Regions from separate parts of the Homo sapiens genome. Here region 2 is linked to region 1. The links come from fine-mapping of genetic effects on gene expression. Tissue or cell type: whole blood. Region 1 holds a variant in brackets; the other region holds the start of a gene. All regions are shown on one strand. Distances are between the middles of the regions.

Evidence for each region. PIP is the estimated chance that this variant, and not a neighbour inherited with it, causes the effect.
Region 2: ARHGAP27 starts here. The variant in region 1 is fine-mapped to the expression of ARHGAP27 in whole blood (TOPMed, PIP above 0.99).

What each region holds. Positions count from the first base shown.
Region 1 is chr17:45,391,250-45,399,421 of GRCh38, reverse strand. ARHGAP27 (Rho GTPase activating protein 27) reads left to right here. Exons shown (of 20, transcript NM_001282290.2): 13 at 1,375-1,473; 14 at 2,398-2,506; 15 at 2,632-2,754; 16 at 2,837-2,935; 17 at 3,138-3,215; 18 at 3,305-3,439; 19 at 3,573-3,678; 20 at 3,789-5,514. The coding sequence ends at 3,966. Among named protein-coding and RNA genes, the nearest start is that of ARHGAP27, 38 kb to the left of the region's middle. RefSeq lists a silencer at 3,513-3,670 and an enhancer at 4,302-4,961. The variant C/G (reference allele first, on the strand shown) is at 3,963.
Region 2 is chr17:45,428,007-45,436,178 of GRCh38, reverse strand. It overlaps ARHGAP27 (Rho GTPase activating protein 27), which reads left to right and starts at 3,309. Exons shown (of 20, transcript NM_001282290.2): 1 at 3,309-3,427; 2 at 3,830-3,963; 3 at 4,427-4,558; 4 at 5,882-6,556. The coding sequence starts at 5,900. It overlaps PLEKHM1 (pleckstrin homology and RUN domain containing M1), which reads left to right. Exons shown (of 12, transcript NM_014798.3): 12 at 1-279. LOC124904016 (a long non-coding RNA gene) reads right to left here and starts at 7,616. Exons shown (of 2, transcript XR_007065825.1): 1 at 7,531-7,616; 2 at 6,830-7,250. RefSeq lists enhancers at 1-340, 5,524-6,024, 6,025-6,525.

The DNA of each region.
Region 1 (8,172 bases):
GCAGGGTTTCACTGTGTTAGCCAGAATGGTCTCCATCTCCTGACCTCATGATCCACCCGCCTCAGCCTCCCAAAGTGCTGGGATTACAGGCATGAGCCACTGCGCCCAGCCTCATTTCATTTTAAAAAGCAGTTTAAATAGTCTTCAAGTATAAGTTTAAAAGGACAGCAAAGATAGTCCAATCCAATTCTAGAAGTTGTGTCCTGGGGTCTGAGACAGTTTCTGTTGTCTCTGACTCTCGCTGAACCAAAAGGGCAGGGTTGGTGTGAGCTGTTGCCGCCAAACATTCACATTAACCTGGAACACTGGGTCCTCAGAGCCAGAGGCTGATAAGGAATCCAACTAAGCTGCCATCCAACTCAGAAAGGGCTTTGAGCGTCAGTCCTATGGTGGCAAGTTTCCCTCTGGTGTTCTGTTTAATTTATGCTTCATGATGAAGCGGGCTAACAGAAGATGTGTTGCCCAGGCTGGAGTGTGGGAGGTGGTGGGGACTCCTGGCTGCAGAAGGTGGGACAACGTTTCTGAGTCCTCAGTGTGTGTATGGGGAGGGGCAAGGGGAGACCTTTCTTTCCCTGGGATCAGCCATGATCAGCTTTCAAATCCTCTCTCCCTATATTCACTGTTGCTTCTAGTAGACAGGGGTCTCAACATAGGAAGTTTCTGGGTTTTGTTTTGTTTTTTTTTTTTTGAGACGGAGTCTTGCTCTGTCGCCCAGGGTGAAGTGCAGTGGCATGATCTCGGCTCACGGTAACCTCCGCTTCCCGGGTTCAAGCAGTTCTTCTGCCTCAGCTTCCCAAGTAGCTGGGATTACAGGAGCCCGCCACCATGCCTGGCTAATTTTTGTATTTTTAGTAGAGACGGGGTTTCACCATGTTGGCCAGGCTGGTCTCAAACTCCTGACCTCATGATCTGCCCGCCTCGGCCTCCCAAAGTGCTGGGATTACAGGTATGAGCCATCGTGCCTGGCCTCACATAGGAAGTTTCTTTCACTTAGTTTGCAGGCCAGTGCTCTGCATGAGGCCTGCCATGTTCTGTGGCTTGCAGGGAGGCAGGATGGGGGAGGGAAAGTGTACCAGACAATTGAGCCATGCAGCTCTGTGCTCATCACTCACTAGCTGTGTGCCCATGAGGAAGCAGCTAAAACTTGCTGAGCCTCAGTTTGCTCATCTGTAACACAGAGATGCTGTCAGCCACTGCTTTACGTGAGGCAGAGATCCAAGACTTAGCCTGGGGTGAGGCCCTTGCTCCATTAAGCTCTGAGTGCCTGGGGGCAGGGACAGGTCACCTCTATCTCTGTACCTACCCCCAACTAGGGCCAACCCCCAGGGCAGACCCAGGGTACCAGAGATGACCCACTGACTTGTGTCCCTCCAGCTACGGAGCCGAGATGGCTCTGAGTACCTGATCCAGCACGACTCGGAGGCCATCATCAGCACCTGGCATAAGGCCATTGCTCAGGGCATCCAGGAGCTGGTAAGCAGAGCCCAGGGCCTCTAGGGGCAGTGGGGAGGGGGTGGCCATTATGAGTGGGGCCCTCTGCTCAGGCTCAGGGAGCTCTAAGGTACCAGTGGGTAATGCAAATGCAGTCCCCACTAATGGCTAGGATGGCAGGGTAGGCGGCTGAAGAAACTGCCTTCTGTAAGTCTGTGAATCCAGCCCTGGGGTTGGCCCTGCAGGAAGACTCTCCAGGTGAGGGTAGGGCACATTCTAAAGGAAGTTCCCATTTCACGGGAGGCAGAAGGCCAAATAAATACTCTGCAAGCCAACCAATGGCAGGCTGAAACTAGCAGATAAAATTTTAAAGGATTGATTTCAATAGTCGACCATTTTTTTAAGGCTGAAAACACCAATTGCATAAGTAGAGCTAGGACAGGGGCCCTCTGACAACTACTGACCTGGAAATGACCTGGGGCTTTTTGACCCTTAATTCCCTATGAGCCAACATTGAGTGAAGCTTTTGGCTGTATTAATAGAGGTAGGAATCCAGAGCCAGAGAGGTGATATTGGTGCAGTTGTTGGCAGTGCTCCGGCCACAGCTGGAGGTGCAGGCTCAGAACTGGGAGCCACGTATTGAGGAATGCTGACCCAGTTAGAGGAGCTGAGGAAAATAGAGAAAGAAGGCACCAGGTGGGTAGGAGTCCCCAGGATAGGAAGGGGTGTGGGAGAACAGGATGACTGTCTCTGCACCTTAAGGGCTCCATGCAGCTAAGGGAGGTGAATGTTCTCAGGCTCACTGGTGGAGGTAAGGAGAGTTAACCTGGTTAAGGGAAGAGAGGACTCTTCGCTGAGGGTCTCCAGGCCATGCCTGTTGGGAGTGCATTTCGGGTCCCTTGCCCCATCCTGGAAGGACCCGCAGCTGGCTCAAGGCCCCGCCTCTCTGAGGCTATGGGAATCCAGTCCGCAGAGCTGCCCCCAGAGGAGAGCGAGAGCAGCAGAGTGGACTTCGGGTCGAGCGAGCGCTTGGGAAGCTGGCAGGAGAAAGAGGAGGACGCGCGACCGAATGCAGGTGTGCGCAAGGCAGGATGGGGTGGGGGCTCCAGGAGGCCTCTCCTGGGGAGTGACGGTTGCTGGGGCCTGCCTGGCCTGCCCTGGCGCTGCCTCCTGACTCAGTCCTGCCTTTCCCCGCGGCAGCCGCGCCCGCCCTGGGCCCCGTGGGCCTGGAGAGCGACTTGAGCAAGGTCCGGCACAAGCTCCGCAAGTTCCTCCAGAGGCGGCCCACACTGCAGTCGCTGCGGGAGAAGGGCTACATCAAAGGTACCCGAGGCCTGCGGGGGGCGGGGACCCGGGACCGGGACGGGGCGCAGGCTGGGCAGGAGCTGATGAGCCTCTGCCCTAGACCAGGTGTTCGGCTGCGCGCTGGCCGCGCTGTGTGAGCGCGAGAGGAGCCGGGTGCCACGCTTCGTGCAGCAGTGCATCCGCGCCGTCGAGGCCCGCGGTACGTGCGCTGCGGGGGTGAGGGCGGCAGGCATTGGGGTGCCCGCAGGCCTCCTGCCAGGACCGCAGGCTGGAGACCCCTGGATGGACGCAGGGTCCAGGGGGAAAGTACGGGAGGCCCCGAGTGGGAGTCATAGCAGGGACCCGTAGCCCCACCCTATCCCCATCCCTGAACCCGGGATCAGCGCCTCCCTCTGGCCCAGGGCTGGACATCGACGGGCTGTACCGCATCAGTGGAAACCTGGCCACCATCCAGAAGCTACGCTATAAGGTGGACCACGGTGAGGCCCGTCCCCAACCCCTGCCCCAGGGCCTGAAGGCGCAAGGGGTACTGATTTCCCTTCCGTCCTCCTCCCTTCCTCCGCCACAGATGAGCGCCTTGACCTGGATGACGGGCGCTGGGAGGACGTCCACGTTATCACCGGAGCCCTGAAGCTCTTCTTTCGGGAGCTGCCCGAGCCCCTCTTCCCCTTCTCGCACTTCCGCCAGTTCATTGCGGCCATCAGTGAGCACCTGGGGCAGGTGGGGCGGATGGGGTAGGGGCGTGGCGGGGCACCCCTTTAGCAGGCTCCCCTCGCCCAGCCGATACCCCCTACCTCCCGTTCCGACTCCCTCCCTCTAAACCTTCCCTCACCCAGAGTTGCAGGACCAGGCCCGGCGCAGCCGCTGTGTGCGTGACTTGGTGCGCTCGCTGCCCGCTCCCAACCACGACACTCTGCGGATGCTCTTCCAGCACCTCTGCCGGTGAGCCGGGCGGCCCGCGCGGGAAGGGGGAGGCAGGTCCCGGCTGAAGCCCCCAGCGCCTCCCCGCAGTTCGCAGTTCGGAGCCCTGAACCCACCCACCCCTGCCACAGGGTGATCGAGCACGGCGAGCAGAACCGCATGTCGGTGCAGAGCGTGGCCATTGTGTTCGGGCCCACGCTGCTGCGGCCCGAGGTGGAAGAGACCAGCATGCCCATGACCATGGTGTTCCAGAACCAGGTGGTGGAGCTCATCCTGCAGCAGTGCGCGGACATCTTCCCGCCGCA[C/G]TGACTGCTGGCCTGTGACTGGGGCGGCGGCCGCGGTCCTGCCACACAAGCTGGGCGGCGGAGGCCACGCAGCCGGGCCTTCTTCTCTCTGGGACCCTCCGCCAGCGCATAGCCGCAGGCCGGTGTGACTTCTGCACCCTCGGTTCTGAGGGTACGGTGACCCCTAGTGGGCAGTTTGCAAAATGTGATTCCTTCTTCCCAACTCCCCATCCCCCCTTCCCTTCCCGTCACGTCCTGTTTGGGGGTTAATTCGGTTTTTTCTCTGTTGCATCGCGCCTACTGTGCGTGTGCGATAGCGTGTGTGGGGGTGAGAGTTTGTTTTCTGGAATGGTAGGTGCTGGGAGGAGGAGTTTGATGGAGGGCTTCCTGGCTGCTTCTGGCCCTCACCTCGTGGAGGCCTTCACAGAGACCCTGTGGGCCCTGGCCCTGTGCTGGCACTGTGCCAGTCATGAGGCAGCTCTGATCACTTCCCCACTGTGGAAACAGGACTGACCCAGCCTTCAGTGTGGGCTGCTGAAGCTATCCTCCTCAGGCCTCAGGGATGACCTCCTGCCTGAGCCTCTCACAGGCTGGCTGTGGGCCAGTTTCATCTGCTTTCCTGTTGGGGGTCCCGGGCCTCTGCTGTCCTTGACCCACTGGTGTTCTGTGCAAGGCTTCTTCCCATTCACCAAGTGCACACCTTGCATCTGCCGCTCGGCATGCACCAGTTCCACACACCATCCCATTTTACAGACAAGGACGCTGAGGCCTGCAGCAGCAGTGTGACTTGCTCAAGGTCCAGTGAGTGACCTCATTCCCCAGAAAAGGCTCCTCCCACACCAGAGTACAGCCTGGGTAGGGGGAAAATCAGTTCTTTCAGCTACCACCCATCCAACCTTTGGGCCTATGTGAAAAGAAAGGAACTAAGCTGGGTGTGTTCTGTCTGGACCTGGGGAGGCCCCTGAAGGCAAAGAGGGAAACTGTCCCAGCTGTTCTGTCCTAGGGGAGGGGGACATAGCCCTAGCAGGAGCTCCCAGCCCCTCTTGGCACTCTGACACACAAGTACACCCATCTGGGGCCCGCTTTGCCACGAAGAGCTGGGCAGGCCTGCAGGGTGTGGGGAAGGAGGACACAACCTCAAGAAAGGAAGCGTGAACCCCAGGGAACAGCGGGTCCCTTCCCTCCTCAGACACAAGCCACCTCAGCTTGTGGCTCTTGGCCCCCAGCCCCACCAACCCACCTGTTCATTTATTCAACAGACAATGACAGCTGATATTTATTGGACATTTGCACCATGCCAAGCATTCGGCTTGGATTATCCCATTTGTTTCTCACAGCCGGTATTTATTGTCTGCTCCTCTGTGCCAGGTGCTGTGCTCTGGGCAGGGGCACTGCATGGGCTGCCTGCCCTGGTGGAGCTTGTGGTCTGATGGGTGAGGCTGACCCAAGCCCACCCCATTGCCAACAGGGCCAGGGCAAGAGTACACACAGGGGCCTCATACCATATGTCTAAATATTTAAAAGTTATCAATCAAGCTAACAACTGTTAAATAAAATATGTTCTATTCTCCTACTTTGACAAATGTGTCTTGATAATGACCTGGAAGGCCAGGTTCTAATTTAAACTTCTTTGACTTTTCCAAGTTCCATGCCCAAATGTGGTGGCCGGAGAAGGGCAGGCCCTGGGCTCAGCCTTCCCTCTCATCTTCCCTCCCACAGAGCCCTCCTCCCCCAAGCAGAGGCTCACGGGCACATATGTGGACATCGTAGTCCATGTGTGCCAACTGCCCATACCCCCTGCAGCCAGCTGCCGCTTGGCTACCCCACTGGTGACGTAGTCCACCCTTGAGGGAATGGGCTTGGAGCTATTTGGGCGGGGCATGCTGGGGCCCCATGTATCAGAAGCATGTTCTAAAGGGCAGGTCCAGGCTTCAAGAGGGCTCCCCAGATTCCTCACCCTGTGGGGAGAGCCACAGACACAGGAGCCTTCTCCTGCAAGAGGACCCATGGCAGGGACCCCTCTCATTTGAGTCCAAGGGTGAAACTAGATAGACAGTAAGCAGATAATTACTTGGTTATCACATTTGTACAAGAGCTAGCAGAAGTGTAGAGTGCTCGGAAGGTGTGTCATGGGGTGTGAATGTTGCCCAGGGACCTGAGATGCTTCTGCAGAAGCCACATTTGAGAGAAGCAGTAAAGAATGAAGAGGAGTCGAGCAGAGGGGTTAAGGGAAGGGTGCTAGTCAGTGGGAGTGGCATGTGTAAAGGCTCTGGGGCAGGAAAGCTTGTGGGGAGAACAAAATCTGAGAGAAGACCATTGTAACTGGAGCCCAGAAAACCAGGGAGCATGGGTATGAGGTGAGGCTGGAGAGCTGTAAGGGACAGAGCATGTGGGGCCTTAAGGCCAAGGACATTGGGTCCCCAAGACAAGGAGCTGAAAGGCAGGGAGATCTTGGAAAGGTGTCCGCTCACCATCTCCTTCACCACCCCAGGCTTCTGACCCTGCCAAGGCCTCAGTGGGCAAATAATACAGCAGCAGGCAGAGAGGTCCTAGAATTATCACATTTTTGTCATGAAGGGGAGCTTCAGAAATCACCTACCACCAATGAGGAAACCTCTAGAGAGAACATCATAAATCACCTGCAGCCACATGGCAGGTTGGTGGCAGAACCTGGCCCAGAGCTTCATTTGCACAGTCTAGGGACCTACCGTGCCCCTCACCAGAAGTCCGAGGCTCAGTCATACGTCCCCAGCCCTGAGCACATGCATGGTGAGCACTGTAGGTGTGCATCGAATAGGTTTGGAATGAATTGGATTGTTCTGAAACACAAAGAATGTAGAAGTGGTGTCTTCCCTCTTGAAGCTCCGTCTGGATGGGGAGAGCTATAAAAAGGAGCGACAGTGGCACAGCTGATAAGGGCTGCCACGGGGATCTCTCCCCAAGCCCACTGCCTCTCAGCAGATGCCCTTAAGTCCTCCTGCAGCCTATAGTCTGCCCCTGAAGCTACTCTCAGAAAGGCCATGGTGCCCACTTGGTTGCTAAGTCTGGGGACGTGCCCAATCCTGTGCAAGTAAACACATGGACTGTCTGTTGTCCTTCTTGAGACATGGACTGTCTGTTCCTTTGCCTGCAGCAACATGGGGTTTCCTTTTTCTTTTTCTTTCTTTTTTTTTTTTTTTTGTTTGAGACAAGGTCTCACTCTGTTGCCCAGGCTGGAGTGCAGTGGTGCGATCATAGCTCACTGCAGCCCCAACCTCCCAGGCTCAAACCATCCTCTTGCCTCAGCCTCTCAAGCAGCTGGAACCACAGGCACACACCACCATGCCTGACTTTTTGTAGAGATGGGATCTCACTGTGTTACTCAGGCTGGTCTCAAACTCCTGGCCTCCAGTGATCCTCCTGCCTCAGCCTCCCAAGGCACTGAGATTACAGTATGAGTCACTGTGCCTGGCTTACATGAGTCTTCTCTACCACTCCACCCCTCCCTTCTCAGCTCCCTGTGTGCTCTGCTTGCCCTATACATGGTGATGCCCCCACTCCCAGATTGTGCCCTTGGCCCGCTTCTCTCTCCCTTCCACCATCCGTCATCCATTCCACCCTGCAGACTCAGCCACCAAGCCTGCACTGGTGTCACCCAAATCTCTAGCACCAGCTTGGAGTGCTCTCTCGCGAGTCATGTGCAAAATCTACCTGCTCAGGAGACACTTCCATGTGGATGGCTGCCAGACACCCAAAGTGCAACCCATCTGCAACAAAGCTCAAACCACCCCTGCTCCCTGTCTCTGAGCATGGCAGCCCCAGTCCCCAGAGTCCCAATCTTCTACTCCTAAATATGTCCCATCCTCCATCAGTCTCCCTCATCTGGGTGATCACAGCAGCCTCTGAATGGGTGCTCTCCTCCCCATTTAATCCTCCACCCAGCAGCCACCCCTCCCACCTATGCATACCAGCTGTGCCCACGCTGCCCCGGGACACTCCAGGTTGCTTCTTGCCTCGATACTTTTGGGCCAACAGTCTTCCTGCCTCCTTCCCTTTCCCCTGGCCAGTTCCTCCTCCTCCTCCCCCAAGCCTCAGCTCACACCTGCCCCCTACACCCTCCTCAGATCTCATGCGTGTGTCTCTCTCATCACACTTAGCTCACTGGATATGATTGTGCTTCCGTGGCCAGGCCTTCCCACTGGGCTGTGGGCTCACAGAAGTTTGCAAGTTTTATCCAGGTCATAGCCTGCAT
Region 2 (8,172 bases), 37 kb before region 1:
TGAGGATTCTCCCCGAAGGTGCCCTCGGAGGCAGCAGGTTTGAGGCCCTGGGGGGCCCGTTCCCCAGAAGCTGCCAGTGCTTTCAGATGCATTGACTCTTCCCGCCTCCCCTCCCTCAGAAAGGTAGTGCCCACACTATTTTTAAAATGTTATTTTATGCAATACACTGTTCCTAGTGAGCAGGGCTCTGGCCCTGAGGAGTCTTTGCAATGTATTGAAGGAATTGCTGCCGTGTGAGTTTTGAATGATTTTGCAGTAAAGACCTGATCTTTCTCATCACTGGTCTGGCTTCTGAATTCTAACACTGCCACGGCCAGGGGGGAGACCACCAGCCATCTGTTACCATCTGTCAGGGTCCCCTACCCTCATGTTAGTCCCTGGCACGGGGGAAGGCTTGGGAGGTCCGTGGCAAACACTTGTAGGCAGAGGGCTTGCATGCCAGGAGTGGGCAGGGAGAAGAGAGTAAGAAAACCACCTTGCCAAGCCCAGCAGTCAGGCTCTTCCTGGGGTAGGATCTCAGGGTCTCTGGGGAGGTGTACCCACACTTGTATAACAACTCAAGCTGATCCCACGCCGGTGGCTTCTTTTCCTGTGACTTAAATGTCAAAACACAGACCCTTGACACTGGATCATGTGAAACCTCAGGATACAGGGGACATTTCTCAGAGGAGAAATAAAGGAGAGATGGGGCTCAGGAAAGAAGGGTTATTTAAGTGGATCCCCCGATTCAGGGCTCATGGTTTTAGGGCTCAAAATGACTTTTACTTGGCTGCTGACCTTCCTCAGAAGTTCCAGGAGAAGCCCAGGGGACCCCTCCAAGGGGAGGCCCACACCACTGTCCATTTTAAGAACAGGAGCAGGAAACAGACTTAATTCTCAGGGAAATCAGGTTGCAGTAAAATGGGATGGAAACAGACAACATTCAGGTCTGAGATTTCCTGTCCTTAAAGGCCCCTTTCAGATTACAAGGTGGCACCCTCTGCCAATCTAGGTGCCCCAGCTTCCCCCAAGGGCTTCACCTCCCTCCAGGACAGTAGATGGTAGGCCCGGAGAAGAGAAGAGAAACTGGGAGAGGGAGGCCCAGAGGAGGGCCACAGCACGTGACCTGGTGCTGCCCTGCCGGTGGGTTCAGGCCCTCTCCAGCCTCAGCAAAGCGCCCCTGAGGCCACTTGTTTCCCCTTCTCCCCTCCCTTTTTTTTTTTTTTTTTTTTGGATACAGTCTCACTCCAATGCCCAGGCTGGAGTGCAGTGGCGTGATCTTGGCTCACTGCAACCTCCACTTCCCGGGTTCAAGCAATTCTCCTGCCTCAGCCTCCTGAGTAGCTGAGACTTCCCCTTTTCCTCTTCTCTCTGAAGGAGGACAGGTGGTTTGGAGATTCCAATCCAACCCCCAAGAGCTTATCATATAATGTAAGTAGTCATAATAGCTGATGTACCCCGGCATGGTGGCTCACACCTGTAATCCCAGCATTTTGGGAGGCCGAGGAGGTTGGATCATCTGAGGTCAGAAGTTCAAGACCAGCCTGGCCAACATGGTGAAACCCCGTCTCTACAAAAATACAAAAATTAACTGGGCATGATGGCGGGTGCCTGTAATCCCAGCTACTCAGGAAGCTGAGGCAGGAGAACCACTTGAACCCGGAGGCGGAGGTTGCAGTGAGCCAAGATCGTGCCGCTGCACTTCGGCCTGGGAGACAGAGTGAGACTCTGTCTTAAAAAAAATAGCTGATATATTGTGTGCGCTGGGCATGTGGTAAGCACTGCTTAGTGGACCTCATTTAATCTTCCCAATAATCCAGTGAAGTGGGTGTTACTATCCCATTGACAGGAAAGAAATCTGAGCTGCAGAGATAAGGCAGAACTCCCAAGGCCTACCAGCCGCCAAGCAGCAGAGTGGGGCATCATACCTGCCTGACCCCACGCAAAGACCATCACCACTGCCAGCCACTGCCTGGCTGTGCTGCAGGTGGAGAGGGACCTAAAAGGTAGGGAGGGAGAGAAGATTCCTCCAGCCACGATTTTCTTTTTTTCTTTTTTGGTTGTTGTTTTTTGAGACGGAGTCTTGCTCTGTCGCCCAGGCTGAAGTGCAGTGGCACGATCATGGCTCACGGCAGTCTCCGCCTCCCAGGTTCACACCATTCTCCTGCCTCAGCCTCCGGAGTAGCTGGGACTACAGGCTCCCGCCACCACGCCCGGCTAATGTTTTATATTTTTAGTAGAGACGGGGTTTCACCGTGTTAGCCGGGGTTTCACCGTGTTAGCCAGGGTTTCTCAATCTCCTGACCTCATGATCCGCCCGCCTCGGCCTCCCAAAGTGCTGGGATTATAGGCGTGAGCCACCGTGCCCGGCACCAGCCACTATTTTCTAAGCATGTCGGGCACCAAAGACCAGTGCTGAGTTCTGCTGTGTGCCCACCCTGGAGGGTCCCAAGGTGCCACCAAGGCTCAGACACACAGATTCTCAGAGGAAGTGTGGACTCACAGGTGGGCAATGCCTAGCAGAGGCAAAGATATAGAGGTAAGGGAGTTCCTTACTTACTATATCTTACAAAGATATAGAGGTAAGGGAGTTCCTTACTTACTATATCTTACAAAGATATAGAGGTAAGGGAGTTCCTCTGAATCTGGGTGGCCAGATTCAGCTTCCCACCCAACCCTGGGTCCCCAGGAGGTGGTGTCAAGAGAGGCCATGGCCTGGGATGCGGGCCCTTCTTCCTCCCAGAACACTGGCCTGAATCAGCCAGCTCTTGGCACACACAGCCAGGTCCACAGGCACAACTGTTCCTTGGGGCCCCTGAGGGCAGGGGGTGTGCTGGGGCTGTGGCTTGTAATGTCTGGAGTGAGTGCAGGCTCAGATCAGGGCGAGGCTGCTTGTCCAGAGAGGCAGAAAATTCTCCAACAGAAGACCCCCAAGGCGGAGGGCCCTGGGGCTGGACTCCTGGAGGTTGTTCTGAGCTTACCCTGTGGACGGATTGGAGGGTGGCCCTCCTTCCCCACAAGGATCAAGAGGGGGTGGGGGATGGTGGGAGGGCAATCTGGCCAGGCGAACCTGCGGGGGAGGCTCCCGCCCTCCCCAGTCCCACCATCTCAGCCCCGCAGCCTCTTTCTCCCTGGAGACAGCCAGGTGCGGCCCAGGATCCCGGGAAAGGCAGGGGAGGGGGTGGCGTCTTCGCTCCTCAGGCGCTGGCCCGGCCCAGAGGGGACAGGAAGCCAGGACACCGGGGATTGTCTCTCGCAACCGCAGCCCAGCCCCAGTCCGGGAGGAAGTTCTGCCCGGCGCTCTCCGCCGGTGCCTCCCTGGTTATATTGTTGAACAGGAAACCCGGCAGCGCGGGAGCCGCACAGTCGAGGAGGGAGCGCGGGACGCCGAGCCCACGCGCGCCTGCCGGGGCAAGTGGAGGCGAAGCCGGCGAGCGGACGCCCCGAGGTGCCCGGGCAGGCAGGGTCGGGAGTGGGGCGCCGAGCGGGGGTTGGGGGTGGGAAGTGGGGTGGGGGTGGGGAAAGGGCAGGGTTGGGAAGGGAAGGGTGCGGCAGGTGGCGGGTCCGCACCCGGGAGCTCCGCGCGCCTGCTCCCCTTGTCTCCGCGCTGGGGCGGGAGCTGCGCGGGCCGCATCCCACGGGGAGGAGAAGGTAGGCGAAGGGCTGCCCTCCATCTGGGGGCTGGAGGGAAGCAGGCCCAGGCCCCCAGCGCCGACCCAGGCGTTGACGCCCCTGTAGCTTGAGTCGCCTGGGCAGTGGACGCAGGGGACCTCCTGGCGACTGGTGCGCTGTCGCGCTCCAGGGATCCTCCCGGCTTCCCCAATCCCTCCCCTTCTCTGCGTTTCCCCAGGGTCGGGGAAGGAACCGAGGTCCGGTCCCCTTCTTATCCAGCCCGAGACATCGAGCTCCGGTGGGCGTCCCTGCGCTGGGAATCCCGCTCGGAGTTTTTCCAGGCCCGGCCGGGCTGCTCCGGGAAAGGCCCTGGTGAGGGAAGAGGTGGGCCCGGAGCGGGCGGATTTGCAATCCGGTTGGAAGGGCTCGCAGTGGGTGATTCAGGGTGCAAATGACCTCCCCGGGAACAGGAACGCCCGCACGAGACAACCAGCCCCAGCCCGGCATTCCCAGAGCCGCGCACAGGAGGGACGCAGGCACTCCCGGACAGCAAATCCCGGGGGGTGGGGGGTGGGGGGGCGGGGAATAGAGGGGGAAGGCGGAGCGGGGGCGGTCCCATCCTCCTTGGGCTCCGCTCGCGACCTGCCAGTGCCCCTTCAGACGCAGCAGTCCCGGCTCCAGGTGCCGGCCTTCTGCTCTGGGCCTCGTCCCAATGCCCCCCAAGGTCCCCAGCAGAGGCATTCAGGCTCCTCCTCGCCCCACCCAGACACGGCTGCTTTGGGTATCGGTGACAGCACTCCTGAGCGTCCCTGTCCCTCTTCGCTCTGCTTGCCAGCTCCTGTTCCGCGCAGCCTCTCCGGCCTCGCCCCTGGAAACCCCGCCCAGGGCGATGGTAGGGGCCTAACCTGCAGCCACCGCCGGCTCCGCCCACCCAGCCCATGGGCTCCCTGAGGCCCGCCCAGCCGACGTGAGTGCGCTGCGGGGTCCAAGGGGAGGGGGCGCCGGGGGAGTGTCCTGCTTGGGGTTTGTTGGTTCAGCACCGGGCAGCTCGATGACCCCGCCTCCGGGGCCCAGCGTGCTTAGTGACTCAGTTTACACCCTTTCCTCGTCGAGGAACGCTTGACAAAGTGGCGGAGGAGCCCTGCTGGGGCCCCCGTTGGAACCTGCTCCTCTGCCTCGGCAAGCGGCGGTCTCCTGGCCCCGGGTCCGGGCCACCTTAGGGGGCAGGAAGAGGTGTGGTCAGTGTGGGAGTTTGGAGGGGCCATGCACTTCCGGAGAAAACCGACTCATGGCTTTGGTGGAGGGGCGCAGACAGATTTAGTTAGGCTCTCCCCCATCCCTGACACCCCGAAGCCCGGGCGGGAGCGGGGCTTATGACCACCACTCCGGAGAGCTTTGGGTGGCCCTGCTCTGGGACTCCGCACTTATAGTCACTGTCTCAGAGTGCATTCTCCAGGAGCCACTCGTGGGGACACTGTAGGGGTCACAGGGCAGGTGGACAGGCCACAGGGGCAGGGCCTTTCTCGGGGGGCGGCGTGAGAGCTGGAGAGCAGGGGGCGGTGCGGGCCGGGCTGGGCGGGCCGGGCTCGGGCTCACGTCTGCGGTGATGCAGCTGGGGAAGGAAAGAGAAACCGAGAGAACCGGTTCCCCTGCATTGGCAGCGGAGGCCTCTACAGCAAGGCCCTCGGACTAAGGGGGGCAGCGACAGCCCCCAGGTAGAGCTGTTCGCTCGGCCCCCTACAGAGCCCACATTCCAACTCTGACCAGGGGGTCGGGGCGCAAGCTGCTGGAGGGAGGCAGTGCTACGAGACCCTCTGCTGATTCTCTGCGGGCGGGAGGCTTCCAGGCGGGACAGAGCCGGGGAGCGGCAGTAAATGGGGTGTTCTTCCTACTTGACTGACGGAAAACTAAGGCGCAGTCAACTATTAAGCAAGCGTGGTGTCGACCTTAGAGCGGGCAATCACCCCTCGTTTTAAAGCCAAGGCTTCCCTCGCAGTCGATTTGGACCAAGACTACCCACAATCTCCCCACCGCAGGACTGAAGCAAGGGTCAAATCTTAGAATCAACCCCACAGAACGAAGGGCTGTCCTAATTCCAGCACTGAGTGTAAGAATGGAAGCCTTACATGTGATTTTATGCAAGTTCCCATTTTAGAGATGGGAAAACTGAGGCCCGAAGGCGAACGGCGAGTGCAGGATCGGGACTCGAACCCAAGTCTGTCCCCGAGTGCGGGGCTATTCCAGGCTCGGTGGTCTTGACCTCCGCGGCCCTCCTTCTTGTTGCCCGCAGGAAAACGCCGCGGCTGCGATGGCGGCGGACGTGGTGGGGGACGTGTACGTGCTGGTGGAGCACCCCTTCGAGTACACCGGCAAGGACGGGCGCCGCGTGGCCATCCGGCCGAATGAGCGCTACCGGCTGCTGCGGCGCAGCACCGAGCACTGGTGGCACGTGCGGCGTGAGCCCGGCGGCCGCCCCTTCTACCTGCCTGCGCAGTACGTGCGCGAGCTGCCCGCGCTGGGCAACCCTGCCGCCGCCGCGCCGCCAGGTCCCCACCCGAGCCCCGCGGCCCCTGAGCCGCTCGCCTACGACTACCGGTTTGTGAGCGCGGCGGCGACCGCGGGCCCCGACGGCGCCCCCGAGGAGTCCGGAGGCCGAGCCAGCTCCCTGTGCGGCCCTGCGCAACGCGGCGCCGCGACCCAGCGCAGCAGCCTGGCGCCCGGCCTGCCAGCCTGCCTGTACCTGCGGCCCGCGGCGCCCGTGCGGCCCGCGCAGTCCCTGAACGACCTGGCCTGCGCCGCCGTCTCGCCTCCCGCCGGCCTCCTAGGAAGCAGCGGCAGCTTCAAGGCCTGCAGCGTGGCGGGCTCCTGGGTGTGCCCGCGGCCTCTGGCGCGCAGCGACTCAGAGAACGTCTACGAGGTCATCCAGGACTTGCACGTCCCGCCGCCGGAGGAGAGCGCAGAGCAGGTACCTCCCCGGGCGCTGGGGCGCGGAGGCGGGTGGCGCGCTAGGGACCGCGCCCGCACGGAGCCGGGGCGCAAGGAGACCCGCTCCGCTCAGCGTCGGGCACGACGCCCACCTCTGTCCGAAGACTTCGGATGAGCTCCCTCTCCCCAACCGCGAAACGTGAGGGGTGCACGCCCGCAGTCCCTCATCAGCAATTCCCAAGCTCCAAAGCTCCCTGGAAGCCCAGAGGCTTTTCGTAATCCAATTGGTGGCAAAATTGCGCTTGAACTGATGTGAGGCTGCTGATGGTCTTTATTTATCGCACTTGTGTGAATATTCATGTTTCGCTGCAGAAATGCAAATGAGCTCGATGGTCGGCTGCTGCCCCAAGCCCTGCTGGGAGGTTATATAACCTACTGCAGGTGTGTGCCCCATATTATCTTTCCAAGTCCCAGCTGTTCTGTATTCCGAAGCGCATCTGGGCACGGAACGGGGGATTGCGGGCCTGCCCCGGCCCAACCGACTTGCCCGTCTCCCAGGAGTCTGGGGTCAGATGAGAGGGTGGATGTGAAAGTCAGGCGTCTGCTTCCCTTTGAGGGTGCTTCCAGCATTTCAGTTCCTTTTTTTAAAGAACTCTTGATGGGTTTGTTTCAGAAAGACGTCCGGTTAAGTGAGGTTGTTTTTTTCCCCCTCTTCAGAGTCCAGTTGTGTTCATCTGGGAAATCGAAAATAGAGCACGTTTTAAAAACAGGTCTTACATCCTCAGAACACTCTAGGCGACCCTGACATTTTGAACTTTAGGAACTTTTCAGAGAGGGGCAGCCCGAGGGGAAAAAAAGATGCTCAGAACCGTTCTGCCATCTGCCACCGGCCGTGTGATGATCTAGGGGCAGTTCTTTTCCTCTCTTAGGGTCTCGGTTTGTTCTTTAGCCCAAAGGGAGGGGTTGGACAGATGACCTCTGATCCTCGGGAGCCTCTGATTTCTTTCGCTGTACCTGATGTCATTACCATGAACACTGATGCCCACTATGTGCCAGGACTGAGTCCGGGATGCCCAGACGAAGGAGACACGCCTCCGTAGGCCCGCTGCTGGGTGTTCCCTCCGCCCGACTCGTTACAATGCAGAGCTCAGGTTTTGAGACTAGGGAAAGGGGAACTGGATTCTGCTGGGTCACCTGCCAGCTGCTGACAGCCACTTAACTTACACGCGAGGACGTTCCCCCAGGCCCAGCGTCCTCTGGTGTAAGCACAATACTTAAGGATTAGGGTTGTGAGCCTTAAACGAGGTAAGGCTTCGAAGCGCTTGACAGCAGCAGGGGGTCCACCCAGGCTGTCTGGGTAGTCCTGGTTTGGCTTCCCTGGGTCTCCGCCGCCTTCACTCAGGCTTCTGCAGCGGTAGCCCGCCGCCTTGTGGCCAGGGTGGGGAACGGCACCCGGCGGGCGGGGCTGGGCACTGCCACTCTGTCCTAGTGACGGTGGGAGGGTGCCTGCCCATCTGAGCAGAGCCCCTGGAGGTGGGGGAATGGCCTTGCTCTTTGAACCTCGCATCTGGCCCAGGGTCTGGCTCAAACAGAGTGCACAGAGAGTGTGTGTTGAGAAGCGCAGAGGTGCGGCAGCCCTTTACCTATGAGCCAGGG